Regions from separate parts of the Homo sapiens genome. Here all the other regions are reported to be linked to region 1. Evidence: microRNA targets listed by miRTarBase, many of them from high-throughput screens and not tested one by one. Region 1 holds a microRNA gene; each other region holds the end of a gene's coding sequence.
The links. Region 1 holds the annotated microRNA hsa-miR-5572 (GUUGGGGUGCAGGGGUCUGCU, at 2,188-2,208, opposite strand). A microRNA usually pairs through its seed, bases 2 to 8, with sites in the 3' UTR of a target mRNA and lowers its output. Matches are read on the target gene's strand: a 7mer-m8 pairs with bases 2 to 8, a 7mer-A1 pairs with bases 2 to 7 and ends in A, and an 8mer does both.

Region 2: the mRNA of CSTF2 is a reported target of hsa-miR-5572. The part of its 3' UTR that is shown has no 7-base or 8-base seed match.
Region 3: the mRNA of SNW1 is a reported target of hsa-miR-5572. Seed matches in the 3' UTR shown: 7mer-m8 at 955-961.

What each region holds. Positions count from the first base shown.
Region 1 is chr15:80,578,316-80,583,386 of GRCh38, reverse strand. MIR5572 (microRNA 5572) reads right to left here and starts at 2,284; the gene lies at 2,148-2,284. It overlaps ARNT2 (aryl hydrocarbon receptor nuclear translocator 2), which reads right to left. Exons shown (of 19, transcript NM_014862.4): 16 at 2,838-2,976; 17 at 1,983-2,148. It overlaps ARNT2-AS1 (ARNT2 antisense RNA 1), which reads left to right. Exons shown (of 2, transcript XR_007064732.1): 2 at 626-3,357.
Region 2 is chrX:100,837,429-100,842,499 of GRCh38, forward strand. CSTF2 (cleavage stimulation factor subunit 2) reads left to right here. Exons shown (of 14, transcript NM_001325.3): 12 at 1-21; 13 at 811-936; 14 at 3,286-4,092. The coding sequence ends at 933. Among named protein-coding and RNA genes, the nearest start is that of CSTF2, 20 kb to the left of the region's middle.
Region 3 is chr14:77,713,636-77,718,706 of GRCh38, reverse strand. It overlaps SNW1 (SNW domain containing 1), which reads left to right. Exons shown (of 14, transcript NM_012245.3): 13 at 177-340; 14 at 421-1,108. The coding sequence ends at 619. SLIRP (SRA stem-loop interacting RNA binding protein) reads right to left here. Exons shown (of 4, transcript NM_031210.6): 3 at 2,828-2,935; 4 at 1,109-1,211. The coding sequence ends at 1,146. Among named protein-coding and RNA genes, the nearest start is that of SLIRP, 8.1 kb to the right of the region's middle.

The DNA of each region.
Region 1 (5,071 bases):
TTAGTGGAGACTAGACAGAGGCATGGAGCTAAAGGCACTGGATGGTTGGGGCAGGGAAGTGGCCTGCCCACCTGTCTCGTCACGGCCACAGTGGGATGCTCCAAGACCTTGCCACGGTTGCGTGTTAGCTCTGCTCCGAAGCCTCTCTTGACCCCATCAGACATAACGACTGTCCTGGCCTGCAGCCACAAGGGCCCCCACGCAGACCATGGCTGCCGCACCTGCAGACTGTCCTGCCTGCCTCCCTTTACCTCTGTCTGTCTCCCCTGACCCAGTCTCTGGACTGTGTCCTTCTCTGGGTGGGGACCAGGTCTCCTGTCTTCCAGGGCTGATTCGGGGCCTGGCACTGAAGGTTTTTTTGAGTAGATCGGTGCCAGATGGTCCCTGGGCTTCCGGGAAGGACTAGGTACCCAGGAGGCCTTGAGTCTATGAGGCCCACCTTCAGGAGGAGGTGAAGGGGTCTCTCCACACCCGGGTGGGGAACCAGATGTGGAGAAGGATCTCACGTGTGACTGCAGGAAGGTGGATGCTATCCTGAGAAACAGGATTCTGGGCTCAAGGTGGTAACCGTGCTGAGTGCCTGGCTGACTTGAGAGCAACTGCTATGGGGTTTCTCCTTCCTCAGACAGGGTGCTGTGCTTCTAAACTGGGTTCCAGTGAACCACGTGGCGAGAATACTTAACAGACGAAGAGGAGACACACTGCAAGTAAATGGGACTAAGGCTGGAGGGACAAGCATGGCCTCAGGAAATGCTGTGCCCCAAGACCTCGGGCTGAGTGGGACGGACGTGCTGCTGTTAGTGGAGGAGGTGGGGAGGGCTGGGCAGCAGATGACAACTCCCCATTGTGTGCTAGGGGCTCTGCACAGCATTTTTCTTTCTTTTGTTTTTTCAGACAGGGTCTCACTGTGTCACCCAGGCTGGAGTGCAGTGGTGTGATCATGGCTCACTGCAGCCTCAACCTCCTGGGATCAAATGATCCTCCCACCTTAGCCTCCTGAGTAGCTGGAATTACAGGCATGCACCACAACACCTGGCTAATTTTTTTTTTTTTTTTTTGTAGAGACAGGGTTTTGCAATGTTGCCCAGGCTAGTCTTGAACTCCTGGGCTCCGGTGATCTGCCACCTTGACCTTTCAAAGTGCTGGGATTACAGATGTGAGTCACCGCGCCCTGCCTGCACAGAATTGTTCATAAGGCTGACAGACAAGCAGTTCTAATGGAAGCTTTTAACTTGCCACGTGGAAATTCAGATGTTTGGGCTCAGATTCACGCTCATCTGAGGAATCAATTCTGTAGAGAAAAGCTCTATGAGCCGCACTGCTGGGTGTCACCCAGTGACCTCACTGTGAGAAAGCAGGCACCAGCTTGGACTTCTTACCAGGACCACGGGTCTCTTATGAGCTTGTCCTGACGTGGAGTGGAACCCTAGCCCTGGGAGACATGCTGAGGAGGTTCCTTACACACACGGAGAGTGGGCAAGGCCCAGGATCCTGAGAAATGCACAGGACACAGCGGTTCCTTAACCCTCTATGGCCTGAGGTTTTGTTAACAAAGTAAGATAGGTGTTTTTAATATTTAAAAGAGACAGAAAACTTTGCAGTGTTATTTATGCAATTGATTGTCTCTATAGCTATTCTCTAGTTTCTTGAAACAAGACTATAAGGTTTTTGACTTGGGGGACCTGAAAATCCTTGCCAGGGCCATAATGGGTTAAAATGGTATTCAGATCACCTCACAGCACAGCAACATCATCCCAATGCCTTGAAAATGATAAAGTCAAATCACAAAGCCAAGGCCTAAGCATCCAGTCTCTTAGGAACACCATAGGCCTCCTCATAGCCAGAGAGAGAGGAGGTGCTTGGAAACCTCCAGACCTTGTTTTGGTAGCTGGGAGCTTGGAGCTCAGCCTCCTGAATTCAGGCTGTTCAGAAAGCATTTGTGCTGGCTTTCCCAGAATCTCACTCCCTCATTCCCCACCTACCGAACCCTGGAGTCCTGTTGGCAAGACTGGAGTAGGCATTCCCACTTGGCGAGGAGGTAGCTGGGCTGGAGAGGGGGCTGTAGGAAGAGGGGTCTGCCGGGTAGGTGTGGCTCGTTCCAATCCCAAAGGGAGATGACTGAGTCTTGCTGGACTGAGATGGGATTTGCTACAATCAGGACAAAGCAAAGAGATGGAAAGCATCACCAGCAGACCCCTGCACCCCAACCGATGCCCCAGGCTGGTCGCAGGGGCAGTGCCTGCTCTGGGTTGACAGTGACTCCCCATGACCCTCTTGTCTGGCTAGGCACAGGCCTGGGATCAGCCCGGTGTGTGAGGGCCCAGGAACTGCAGGATCTTTGGGGCACGTCTGGTTGAAGTTACTCCCCAGGGCTACGAGGATCCGGGCCCTCTGGAGTCTGGTTACCAAGGCCTTGGCATTATGAACACCTAGAACTCCCTCAGCCCAATCAACACCCACCCTCACAGTGACTATGAGGGTCTGGGGATGTCACAAGGGTTGGTGGTTTCATGCCCTCCTGGCGCAGGGGCAGCCAGAGGTCCAGAGTAGTGAGGGGCTCATTCTTGATGAGGTGTCTCAACCTGCCCAACCTTTCCCTGCCAGCTGCCTCAGGGCATGGCTGTAAGGAGAAAAGGCTGCTGAAGTTGCAGGCTGGGCACCTGGCTCTCCGAGAGCCCTGAGGGTGGATGGTGCTCCTGAGTAGCCAGCTGCTGTTAGGGTGGTTGGTTCCAGCTAGGAGCCGACCCATCCTCAGAACCGCAATCCAAAGAAAACACTTCCCAGAGTGCTCTGCCTCTCTGGTCACCCAGGGGAGATGCCCTCACAGATGCCCATACCTGTCCCGGAAAGGGCGGACGACTCCCTGTCCATGCCACCTGACTCTGGTTTAGCTGCCGGGAGATTTGGGACATGTTCTGGCCCGTGGAAGAAGAGGACTGAATATCATTCACTCCAGGCACATGAACCACTGAAGAGCTAGAAAAGAGGAAAATGCATTTATCCCGAGGACACACCTGGTTTGCATGAGTCTACGTGCCCAGCCAACCACACAATCTGCCCTGGGCCATCTTCCTGGCTCTCTCTCCATGCAGCACGTCACTAGAGAAAATGACTCACACATCGTGAGCCTCAAAGCCCCTTGGCCGTCCTCCTCTCCCTTCAGGGCTTCCTCTACACTGCTGAGTAGTCCTGCCATGTCTAGTAGTCTGGTACTTCCTCTCCTCGTTCTCCCCAGGGTCTCCCACGCACTCTTCAGCCCCTATCCTATGCCTGTACATCCTCTGCTCTCAGCAGATGATTTGGTTCCCAGAAAGAGAGAAGCTTCTTAGAATAAAAATCAGTCCCACTGTTCACTCACTCTTTTGTGCTCTGGTTAATTTGTTCCTTTGGGGCACCTATGAGGCTTAAGGATTCAGGAAATAGGTTGCAGGCTGTCAGTTTTAAACGGAAAGAAAAGCTTCTCAATGAAAACCTGCTGGATGGGGCCTAGTCCTGCTACCCAGAGTTTACCCCTCCCACCTTCAGTTCACCTTCGACTTAACTCAGTTTGTCTTTATTAGGCCCCTGCTGTGTGCCGTGCTCTCTGCATGGCCTTTGCAGGCTAAATCTCTGACCCTGCTTAGCTCCTCGGCAGGCACTGTCTGTACCACCAGGCGCTTCTTCCAGGAGATTTTCCAGGCTATGTCGATTACATGAGAAGCTCATCAAAGACTAAAAGGCTGGGGGCAGACTTTTACTTTGTTTCAGGCCCCTCCTCCTGCCTCCCTGGGACTAGCTCAGCATGCAGGGCAGTGCGCTGGGTGCCCATGAATCAGTCAAGTAGGGCAGAATGGGGCTCATCACAGAAGGCTTTGGTAGATTTTCAGCTCCGTGTTAAAAAAAAGGCAAGCCAGAGATCAGCAGAGATTGGGTAAAATTTTACTATTGTATTCTAATAAGTTTCCTATGCTATCTGATCCCTTTTAAAATAGGGAGAAACCAAGAATGTCAGAGACATTCTTGAGCTGATCATTGTAAAACAAGTTCAGTGGCTTATATAAAGGGGACATCATTTCTGTCTTCATACAATCAATTCCTCATTTAACATAAGGGCTCCTTTCCCATTCTCCTTCCTGATGAAAGTATTGCTTCAGAGGACATTTTCTGGTCACTATTGTCTAGTAGGACCCTCTCCACAGCCCCCAGCCCTTGGTGTCCTCCCCAAAACACTGACTGATGAGGGCCGCTACAGCGTAGACGGTCCTAGGAAAGGCGCCTTGGCAGAAAGGGATGGGCTTCTTGGGGCAAAGCGCCAGCCCTTGTGCACAGCCCTCCCTGGGGGCCTCTGGGCTACAGCTGCCTGCCTTAGTGTGGACAGGCAGGGGCCAAAACTGGCGGGACCAGAGAGGGAGGACTGTGGGTGAGGATGCACTTCAGGTGCCAGCAACACCATTCTGCAAGCGGCCCAGGATTCCCTATGGCTGTATTGGGCCCCAGAGTCCTTCATCCCACAGCCTACCCCATCCCAAGCCAGCTCAGATCCTTCGGATATACAGGAAATTCTGCCCATTCCACAGGCTTTAGCCCTAACAGGCATCCTTTAATTAACTCAGTCATTTATTCATTCATTTTACAGACTAGTACTCAGCAAGTGCCTTTTCTATGCCAGGCTCTGCACAGGTGTTCGGACGTTCCTTGGATTCCTTCCCCACACTGCCAGCTGCCCCAAACCTGCTTTTCCTTCCCCATCACTCATCACTGCCCTGTGCACCCTACATTTTTGTTTCTATGACAACAGCGTTACCCAGGCTCTGCACCTCACGCTGGACTGTCTGCCCTGAGCCCTGTCTGCAGCTTCACTCTTCTCCCAAAGGTCATCAGTGATGGTGTCCTCCTCCTCAGCATGGTCCCCACGGCTGCTGCTGCAGACACAGCTCAGGGCAGACAGTCCAGTGTGAGGTGCAGAGCCTGTGTGAGGCCGTTGTCATAGAACAACGTGGTCATCCTCTGTTTCTCCCATTAGTGAGGCCTCCTCCAACAACACCTCCTCCAAGGCTTCACTCAGCACACCCCTCAGGCCCTTGCACCCCTG
Region 2 (5,071 bases), not on the chromosome of region 1:
ACTCCACAGGATCATGAGAAGGTAAGCAACACTGTCTGACTGCCTCCTTATGCACAATTCTAGCCTTTTTGATTCCTCTTTTCACAGTTACCATGTGACGATCCTGGGTCTTCAAAGTCCCTTTGGAGGTGATGTTTATTCTAACTTAGAACTCTTTTATGATCTTGTTACCTGAAAATTTGTGAGTCTGGTCCTGAAGTTCCTAATGGATGTGAAGTTCTTAAGTGGATGTAAATGGCAGCTTATTTTATATTTCACACTCATCTGCCAATAGCAGGTTTTTCTTGTTCAGGCCAGATTGACCTGAAAATCCACACCCTTTTTCCTTCCCTTTCTACTTTATCCCTAAAAACAATAGTAGATTCCCCATGATTATATCTTTCTGTTTTTATATTTGACCATTGTGGGGAGCTTATGTCTGATGGAAAGGCTAAAATTTGTGAAAAAGAGAGACTTTCAAAACAGGATTAAAACTTGAAGGATTTCCAGGGCTCACAGATACCATCTTAGTCTCCAGGAACTTTGAGTTCATGAAGTTGTCTGTTTTGAATCGTCTAATCTTAGGTATTTTAATTTATACTTGTTCTTTTCATTGTACCTTTTCTCACCAGTTTTTTTTTATTTTTTATTTTTTTTGGAGGGGGGCTGTTGGTTTTTTTCTGTGTGAAATGTTCTTCCTTTTTCCATTTTGCTTCATATCCCACTACAGTAGCTTTTTGGACAGAAGCTGGTGGTGGGTTTTTTGTTTTGTTTTGTATTTTTTAGCTGCCATCATTAAAACTCACTACCTTTTTTTTTTCCTCTGCACAGGCTGCTTTGATTATGCAGGTTCTACAACTGACTGCAGACCAGATTGCCATGTTGCCTCCTGAGCAAAGGCAGAGTATCCTGATTTTAAAGGAACAAATACAGAAATCCACTGGAGCACCTTGATAGGTGAGCAAACTTAATCCCCATCTGAGTAGGACTAGCTCCTTGTCTATTCTGGGTATATACTTTTAACCTTAACCAACAAGATTGTTCTCTCAGCGGCCCTCAATCCACTCAGCTAGACTCTTCTTTACCCTTCAGTAGGTCAGCTCCTGTAGGGATAGAGTAAGGCTATACAATGTTTGTTCAGTTGTTGAATTGCTTATAATCTTTCCTAATGACAAAGGTAATGTATGATCAGTTTAACAAAAGTAATCATATACAGAAATGTAGAAGGTGAAAGGTAAAAAGCCCTGTTTCCTCAATCTCATTCCCCAGACAAAACCTCTAAATATAGTTTGGTGTGTATCCTTCTACAATCAATTGTATTATTTTATTCCAAACTGTCCTGTCAAAATGGAAAAATACAAAGCATTTCAATAAAATGTGTAAATATTTTGTTTCTTGTATTTATTTTATAGGGAATATTTTGATGTTGAACTATAGTAGCACATAATTTAAGGTAGTAAATGTCCGTCATCACCATCAGTTTCTATATATTTTGGAGATCGCTGTACCCTGCTACCCTTATTTTTCTTGCTCATCATTTAGGCAGAAAGAATCCAGGGGCCAAGCACAGTGGCTGAGCCCTGTAATCTCAGCTTTGGCAGGCTGAGGTGGAAGGATTACTTGAGACCAGGAGTTCAAGACCAGCCTAAGCAACATAGTGAGACCCCATCTTTACAAAAATTTTTTAAAAAATTAGCCAGGCATGGTGAGATGCGCCTATAGTTCCAGCTACTTGTGAGGCCGAGGTGGGAGGACTGGTTGAGTCCAGGAGGTCAGGGCTGCAGTAAGCCATGATTATGCCACTGCACTCTAGCCTGGGTCACAGAGTGAGACTCTGTGTCAAAAAAAAAAAAAAAAAAGGATCCAGGTAACCTGCTTCATAAATAATCATGTGACAACTTGATTACACATACATGTATCAGTGTTTCTTTTTTAAAAAAAATTTCCCCAGCATTTTGTATTTTATAAACAGTTCTTTTTTCTAAAAACAGTTTAAAATTCATGTTGCCCCACTATCAGGTAGGACAGCACAATTTAAATTTCTACTTTTTACCCCATCCATATTATAATTCCTATTCTTATGTTATATAATAGTGAACTCATTTAACTATTAATAATTACCACTCTTACAAAATATATCATTTTAATCCATACTTGTGATGTCTTTAAACATTTAAACTGCGACTATGCATCATATATGTATTTAGACCTTAAATGAATTAATGAGAAGCTATCATAGATAGAAGGCTCAGTAGACTTTTGGTACCTTAACGTTTTATTCCACAAACCCCACATATTCTTTTTTTTTAGTAAAAGTATAGACTACCTATTACATTCAGAGGAATAAATAAAAATTATTTCTTTTACTAATTTACTTAAGCCAGAGAAGGCATTCCCTACAATGTGAGAAAATTACTCCTTACTGTTTCTGGATAGTAGAGGTAGAAATGTTTCTGAAATTTCTTTCATTATAGTTTTGCTTATAGGATGTTTAATTTAAGGCCTTGCATATTAACCACAAGGCAAAGTTTTTGTCTATTTTTTTACCTTTTATTTTTAAATAATCATAGACTCAAGGAAAGTTGGAAAAATAGTACAAGGAGTCTCATGTACCCTTCACCCAGTGTAGTGCAAAACCAAGAAATTGACATTGGCACATTACTGTTAACTTGACTGCAAACTCAGTTTTCACCATTTTAAAAAAACTATCATGATTTGTGTATATGTATGTGTGGTTCTATGCAATTTTATGTGGGCAAGATTTTATTGTGTGTCTACTGGTGTTTGTGCATACCATGGCTAAAGTGTTGGGTTTTCCTCCATCCTATACCTAGCTAGTTGTGATCCATCTCTGCCATCATGGACAGGCTTCTATACTGTTGTCATTAGAGATGAATGGTTCTCAAACAAGGGCAGTTTTGCCCCCTAGGTGACATTGTCTTGAGACGTTTTTGGTCATCACAACTTTAGGGAGTATGGCATGCTACTGGCATTCAGTGGGTAGAGGCCAGAGATACTGCTAAACATCCCATAATGCACAGGATGGTCCCCCTCACCCACTTCCCAATAGCAACTAGTACTCCAGCCCAAAATGTCAGTAGTGCTGAGGTTGAGAAACCCTGCTGCAAGGGCTGATTGCTTTGAGGAGTCAGGAGGCAGGAGACAGATACTTTGCAAATCTGTCCTGGTGATTTGATTATATGCCTGTCCTCCCTCCCCTAGCCTTTTTATTTTTTTTCCTGAAGTTTTTCCGGAAGAGAGCTTTGTCTTCACTTCTAATGGCTTTGTCCTAACTTCTTCTTACAGGTTTTCAAAAATACCTGGCAAGAAATCTGGAAATTCTATAATTTTGTTGAAATATTGAAAAAAGATGACCTGCATCCTAACCCTTGAATGACTCAAATCAGTGCCAGGTGGAGGACTCCCATCACCTTCTCTCAGAACAAAATCACTTCATTTTATTGTCTTAGTTTGTATATTTTCTGTGACTTGAAATAAACTTTGAACACAATTTTAGTACACTGCAAATTGATACACATGACCTTTTTGCTTTTAAAAAGCTTAACACTAAGGGTGAAACCTTAGATGTGTTTTCTACCCTTACTGCAGTATTGTACTTTAACATATTGCCATAGTTTTGTTTTTAAGTTAACCACTTATTCTTCTTGATGATATTTGAGAATTTCTCAGAAGCAATGTTTTCTGGAACTTGGTTTTTGTTTAGTTTGCTTCCAGTAAGAATTATTATAAGGCTTTGCCCTCTGAAAATATTCTAGCACTTCGGAGTCTTCTAGGAGAAAATATCACATGCTTAGAGCTATAAAATGGTCAGAAGGCTAACAGAGCAAAGAGCCTAGCACAGCTGTGTGTTTAGTTTAGAAAAATCCAAATATCAAAATGCATTTGTTTCAATAGCAGGTCTGAACATGTATAATTCAGAGTTAAGACAAAAATTGTTTTAGCACTGGTTTGAGTGTGTCAGCAACACAAGAGACTGTTGACATTTACTTGTGTGTTCTTAAACTTATCAGTCTAGGCAGTCAACTTTGAAAGTTTAAAAAGCCACTGATTTTTCACATGCTCAAGATGAAATAAAAACAGAAATCAAATGAACAAAATACATTTCATCCTATCTTCCAGGCAGTCCCTAACCTGCAGCCCTACCCTGTAACTACGTTTATTCTGGGAACTTACAACACAGAAAACCCTAAAACTTGTACATTCTTCTCATTTTAAGTGGACCAAATGTAGAGCACAGTCAGATTGCTCATTAGGTCTGCTCCTGCCTGCTTCCTTGCGGATAGGTATGAACATAATTAGTGCCATTAGCTCTAATCTATGGGTCTTATTGCCTAGTATTTCTCTCTCTCGCCGCGCCGCCGCCTCCTCCTCTCCCCCCACCCCAACCCCATCTCTCTCGTAGTGGCATTAAGGAGGAACATGGTTTCTCTCTATCAGGCCAACCTCAAGAGGTTAAGAGTTGCCTTAATAATCAGTAAAGTTCTACTGGAACTACTTTTGAGCCAATTTATATTCTTGGAATTCTATCCCCTGGGTTAGGATTATGGTCAGGTGAATTAAAAGCCTGGCATAGGCTTAGAGAATGTAATAGCATATTGCTTACATGTCAAGCAAAAGAATGCAAAGATAATCAACTTTTTGAGTGACAATGAAATTGAGGGATTTTCTACTCATATAAACATTTATAAGAAATTTGTTGATTAAGGTATTTCATATTACAACTTTGCAAGAAAAACTTGCTCAAAGCAGGTGAGGAGCTTTCTGTGTATCCTGCTCATCCCCAGTTCAACTTGGATGTTGGCTATGCATAGGATTTATTATATTCATTACCATGAATATAATCACGAATTTATGCCTACTCCCATAAATATTCAAGCCTTGGGATATTGATTTTGGCAGCCATCATATCTTGAAGTGAGTGTGTCAATATATTTAGACATGGAGACCAAGAGTGATGCCTTTCTCATTAGGAACTCGTTGTAAGTTTCAAGATTCCAAATCAAGGTCATTGAAGATGAAGTTGTCATTTGGTCAGTAGTTGTCTAATAAGAATCATGTCTTCAAGGTTTCA
Region 3 (5,071 bases), not on the chromosome of region 1:
AAGTTGTTATGAAGTTCATGTGCTACCAGTTTTTTAATGAAGACTTTTTAATTTGCAGTTCAGATTGTTGAAAATGTGAGCTGTACATTAGCAAGGGTTTACTGTAAACATGTTATGATTCAGCTTTTGATAAACAATGTTTACACTTTTATTTAATGTCATCCATTTTTCCACAGGGTATGGACAGTGGATTTGCAGGTGGAGAAGATGAAATTTATAATGTTTATGATCAAGCCTGGAGAGGTGGTAAAGATATGGCCCAGAGTATTTATAGGCCCAGTAAAAATCTGGACAAGGACATGTATGGTGATGACCTAGAAGCCAGAATAAAGACCAACAGGTGCCAAGCCATACAACTCAATTTCAGTGTTTACACTGGTGAAAGCAAAGTAGTTCATAGTTTTTTCTCCTTTTCCTTAGATTTGTTCCCGACAAGGAGTTTTCTGGTTCAGACCGTAGACAGAGAGGCCGAGAAGGACCAGTGCAGTTTGAGGAAGATCCTTTTGGTTTGGACAAGTTTTTGGAAGAAGCCAAACAGCATGGTGGCTCTAAAAGACCCTCAGATAGCAGCCGCCCCAAGGAACACGAGCATGAAGGCAAGAAGAGGAGGAAGGAATAGGCACAGGTCTCTCCAAAGTGAATGAACTCTTACCCATAACCCTAATGATGCAAGTCATATGGGGGAACACTTTGTAAATGGTCAGGATAAAAACCAAATCTGGGTGCCAGATCCCAGCACTACTTTTTATTACTGGAGAAATGGGGGGGATAGAAAATTCTACTTTGAATTATTTAGTTTTTTTTAAAGAGTGGGTTGTGTTTGTGCTTCTCCCACCTTTCAGCATTTATAGAACATGCTGCCCCACATACAAAGTCAAGACCACTTACTTTTATGTGACACTAGTAGTTTGGGGTTAATGTTTTGTGTAAGAACAGCTGCATATGAGTAAAGTTACCCCAACCACAGTGAGGAGGAAGATGTTCACATACTGGAACTGTCCTGCCAAATAAATTTTGCCCCTATTGTGCTCTGTTTTAATTTGGAGTGGGCAAAGTAACCTCTTGCTTGGTGCAACTATTTGTTTCAAATAAAAACATTTAGACAAAATTCTCAGTTATGTTAACTTTATTAATAGGCTGCAGTCTCAAAAATCTTTCTTTTCATCATCAGATGTTTGCGGAAGTTTTGGCCTTCTAGTGTGAACCTGGACCTTAAAAAAATAAGCACTGTAAGGGAGGAAAGGCAATGTCTGCAAAAACATTCAAACTGAAAATCACTTTATTAGGGAGTCAGTATGAATAATGAATAACCCAGGCAGTTTTTATTTGTCCCTTGTTCTTTCGTTTTCTCCTCAAATTCCTTTTACCATCTTTGTTGGTATTATGACTCCCTAACCCTCAATTAAAAATTGTAAATCAGACCAGGGGCAGTGGCTCAGGCCTGTAATGCCAGCATTTTGGCAAGCTGAGGCAAGAGGATTGCTTGAGGCCAGGAGTTCAACACCACCCTGCAACATAGCAAGGCCCTGTCTCATTAAAACTAAAATTTAAAATAAAATAGTAAATCAGTTTGGCCCAGGATCACATGGTGGGTAAGCCAAGATTTCAGCCCCAGCTTGCCTGACCTGAAAAGCAGACTGCTGGCCAGGCGCTGTGGCTCACGCCTGTAATCCCAGCACTTTGGGAGGCCGAGGTGGGCGGATTGCCTGAGGTCAGGAGTTTGAGACCAGCCTGACCAACATGATGAAACCCAATCTCTACTAAAAATACAAAAAAAATTAGCAGTGCGTGGTGGCGCATGCCTGTAATCCCAGCTACTCGGGAGGTTGAGGCAGGAGAATCGCTTGAACCCAGGAGGCGGAGGTTGCAGTGATCCAAGATTGCACCATTGCACTCTAGCCTGGGCAACAAGAGCAAGACTCTCAAAAAGAAAAAAGAAAAGTAGACTGTTATGTCCACTGTGTTACATATCTTGCTACCCATTAAAGGGTCATCTTGTACTTTCCTGGACCTTTTAAAACTGGGCACTCTACCACCCCCCATTTTTTTTTTTTTTTTTTTTTTGAGATGGAGTTTTGCTCTTGTTGCCCAGGCTGGAGTGCAATGGCGCGATTTTAGTTCACTGCAACCTCTGTCTCTTGGGTTCTCCTGCCTCAGTCTCCTGAGTAGCTGGGACTACAGGCATGTGCCACCACGCCCATCTAATTTTTTTTGTATTTTTAGTAGAGATGGGGTTTCTCCATGTTGGTCAGGCTGGTCTCAAACTCCTGACCTCTGGTGATCCCCCCCGCCTCGGCCTCCCAAAGTGCTGGGATTATAGGCATGAACCACTGCGCCTGGCCTACCACCGCACCATTCTTTTTTTGTTGTTGTTTTGTTTGTTTGTTTGTTTGAGATGGAGTCTCGCTATCGCCCAGGCTGGAGTGCAGTGGCGCAATCTCGGCTCACTGCAGGCTCCACCCCCTGGGGTTCACGCCATTCTCCTGCCTCAGCCTCCCGAGTAGCTGGGACTACAGGCGCCCGCCACCTTGCCAGGCTAATTTTTTGTATTTTTAGTAGAGACGGGGTTTCACCGTGTTAGCCAGGATGGTCTCGATCTCCTGACCTTGTGATCCGCCCGCCTCGGCCTCCCAAAGTGCTGGGATTACAGGCGTGAGCCACCGTGCCCAGCCTCCACCCCACCATTCTTAACAAGCATTAAGGCAGCTTCAGTTACAAATCTCTCCAAGTCCCCATCATTCCACATTTATGATCTATTTAATTGATACATAATTAAATAGTACCTACATGTATATCATGTATGTATCTGGCATAGAAATAAATTTACCTTTACTCCATCTATAATATGATTTTCCTGTTGTAGTGCATTCCGAAGTCCTTCTTCTGAAGAAAACTGAACCCAACCCAAACCTCTGTGAAAGCCAGTCTCCTTGTCCTAAAAATTCAAAATATAGGAAAAGATTAATCATGAACTTCAGAAAGTTTCCATGAGTTCCAAATCAAACTACCAACTTTTTCATCTGCCAAAAATCGGACTTTTTAATTTAATTTTATTTTATTTTTAGGCAGGGTCTTGCTCTGTCACCCAGGCTGGGGTGCAGTGGTATGAACGCAACTCACTGCAGCCTCAACTTCCTGGGTTCAAGCAATCCTCCCACCTCAGCCTCTTCAGTAGCTGGGATCACAGGTACATACCACCATGTCTGCCTCATTTTTTATATTTTTTGCAGAGATGGGGTCTTCCCATCTTACCCAGGCCGGTCTCAAACTCCTGGGCTCAAGCAATCTTCCCATCTGGGCCTCCCAAAGTAGTGAAATTACAGGCATAAGCCACCATGCCCAGCCAAAAATCGGATCACAGACATTTATAAGTGTCAGTAACCTTGCTTTACACCCTTCCTGATTACCCAAGGCTAAATCCCTGTGTTGTTAAGCTTCCTGTTTTCCTTGCTGCCATTAGAGAAGATACGGGTCATGAGCTTTCTGTGTCATTCTAGATGCAAACCATACTAACAGTAATAGCTAAGGGAAATTTTGATCAGTACTCTTGTTCTAAGCTTCGTTTCTAGAAACTAGAAAATTAAGCCTCAAAGCCTTGTTGCACTCATTTCTGAATCCAGTCACCCTCACCACCACCACGACTATCATCACGTGTTCCTAATGAAAAACAAGAAAAGATAATATTTAGCCCTTACTCAACCTAGTTACAGACTTCTGGTTAATTTAAACAATTTTGCTATTTTCCCTTGTGCAAAAGTTTCAACCTATACATCGCATACGGAAAACAGATTCTAGAGTGCTTGGATGTACCCTGCCCCTCCAGCCCTTCGACAGAAAACAGATATTAAGATGTCTAGTCCCTGTAGATGACAAACTGGTCCTCATTAGTCTCATTCAAGTCATGCTGTGCTTTGCCAAAAAAAACAAAATCTTACAATTGCTCCTCTACTTCAAGGATAACTTTATAAGGATTAACCTAGAAGACGGAAAGTTTCTGGTGATGTCCCAATGATCCATTCATTGTAGATACAACAATTTCTAAAGCATTCCTTTATTGTCATGTGACCACTTCCACAGTCAAAGGCATTAAGAAATTTGTTTATATTAAAACATAGGCCAGGTGCAGTGGCTCAATCCCAGCACTTTGGGAGGCTGAGGTGGATGGATGGCTTGAGGTCAGGAGTTTGGGACCAGCCTGGCCAACATAGTGAAACTCCATCTCTACTAAAAATACAAAAATTAGCTGGGTGTGGTGGCCCATGCCTGTAGTCCCAGCTATCTGGGTGACTGAGGAAGGGGGATCACTTGAACCCAGGAGGCAGCGATTGCAGTGAGCTGAGATCACGCCTCTGCACTCCAGCCTGGGCGACAGAGCAAGGCTGTCTCAAAAAAAATAACTCAGTCCAGGTGTGGTGGCTCATGCCTGTAATCACAGCACTTTGGGAGCTGAGGTGAGTAGACTGCTTGAGTGCGGGAGCTCGAGACCAGCCTGGGCAATATGGTGAAGCCCCATTTCTACAAAGAGTACAAAAAATTAGTCAGGTGTGGTGGCACACGACTAATCCCAGCTACTCAGGAGGCAGAGGCAGAAGGATCCCTTGAACCCAGGAGTTCAAGCCTGCAGTGAACTTGATTGTGCCACTGCACTCCAGCCTGAGTGAGAGAGAGAACCTGTCTCAAAAAAGGAACCAGGATTTCCAACTAGAGTACAATGAATGGAACAAAAAAATATTTTTTTTGTCATATTTTATTTTGTTTTACCAACATCAAAGCCGCCTTTTATTTAAATCTAAGATCTATTCTTTGCAGGTCCTATTTTATTTATGGACCAATAAAAATCTATTCATTTTTTTGCAAGGAACTTTTTATTTAAATGCTCTTGAAAAAATTGAAGTTTTCAAACTTACAGAAAATATTTCATGTCCATAATACATGTGCCCAACTTTTCTATTCAACTATATAAAATTCCATTGCATCAGTGACTTAATATCTAATCAATCCCAGTGATGAACATTTAAGTTTCTTCTTCTTACTTGACATTAAATAATGCTGCTTTGGAATATTCTTGACC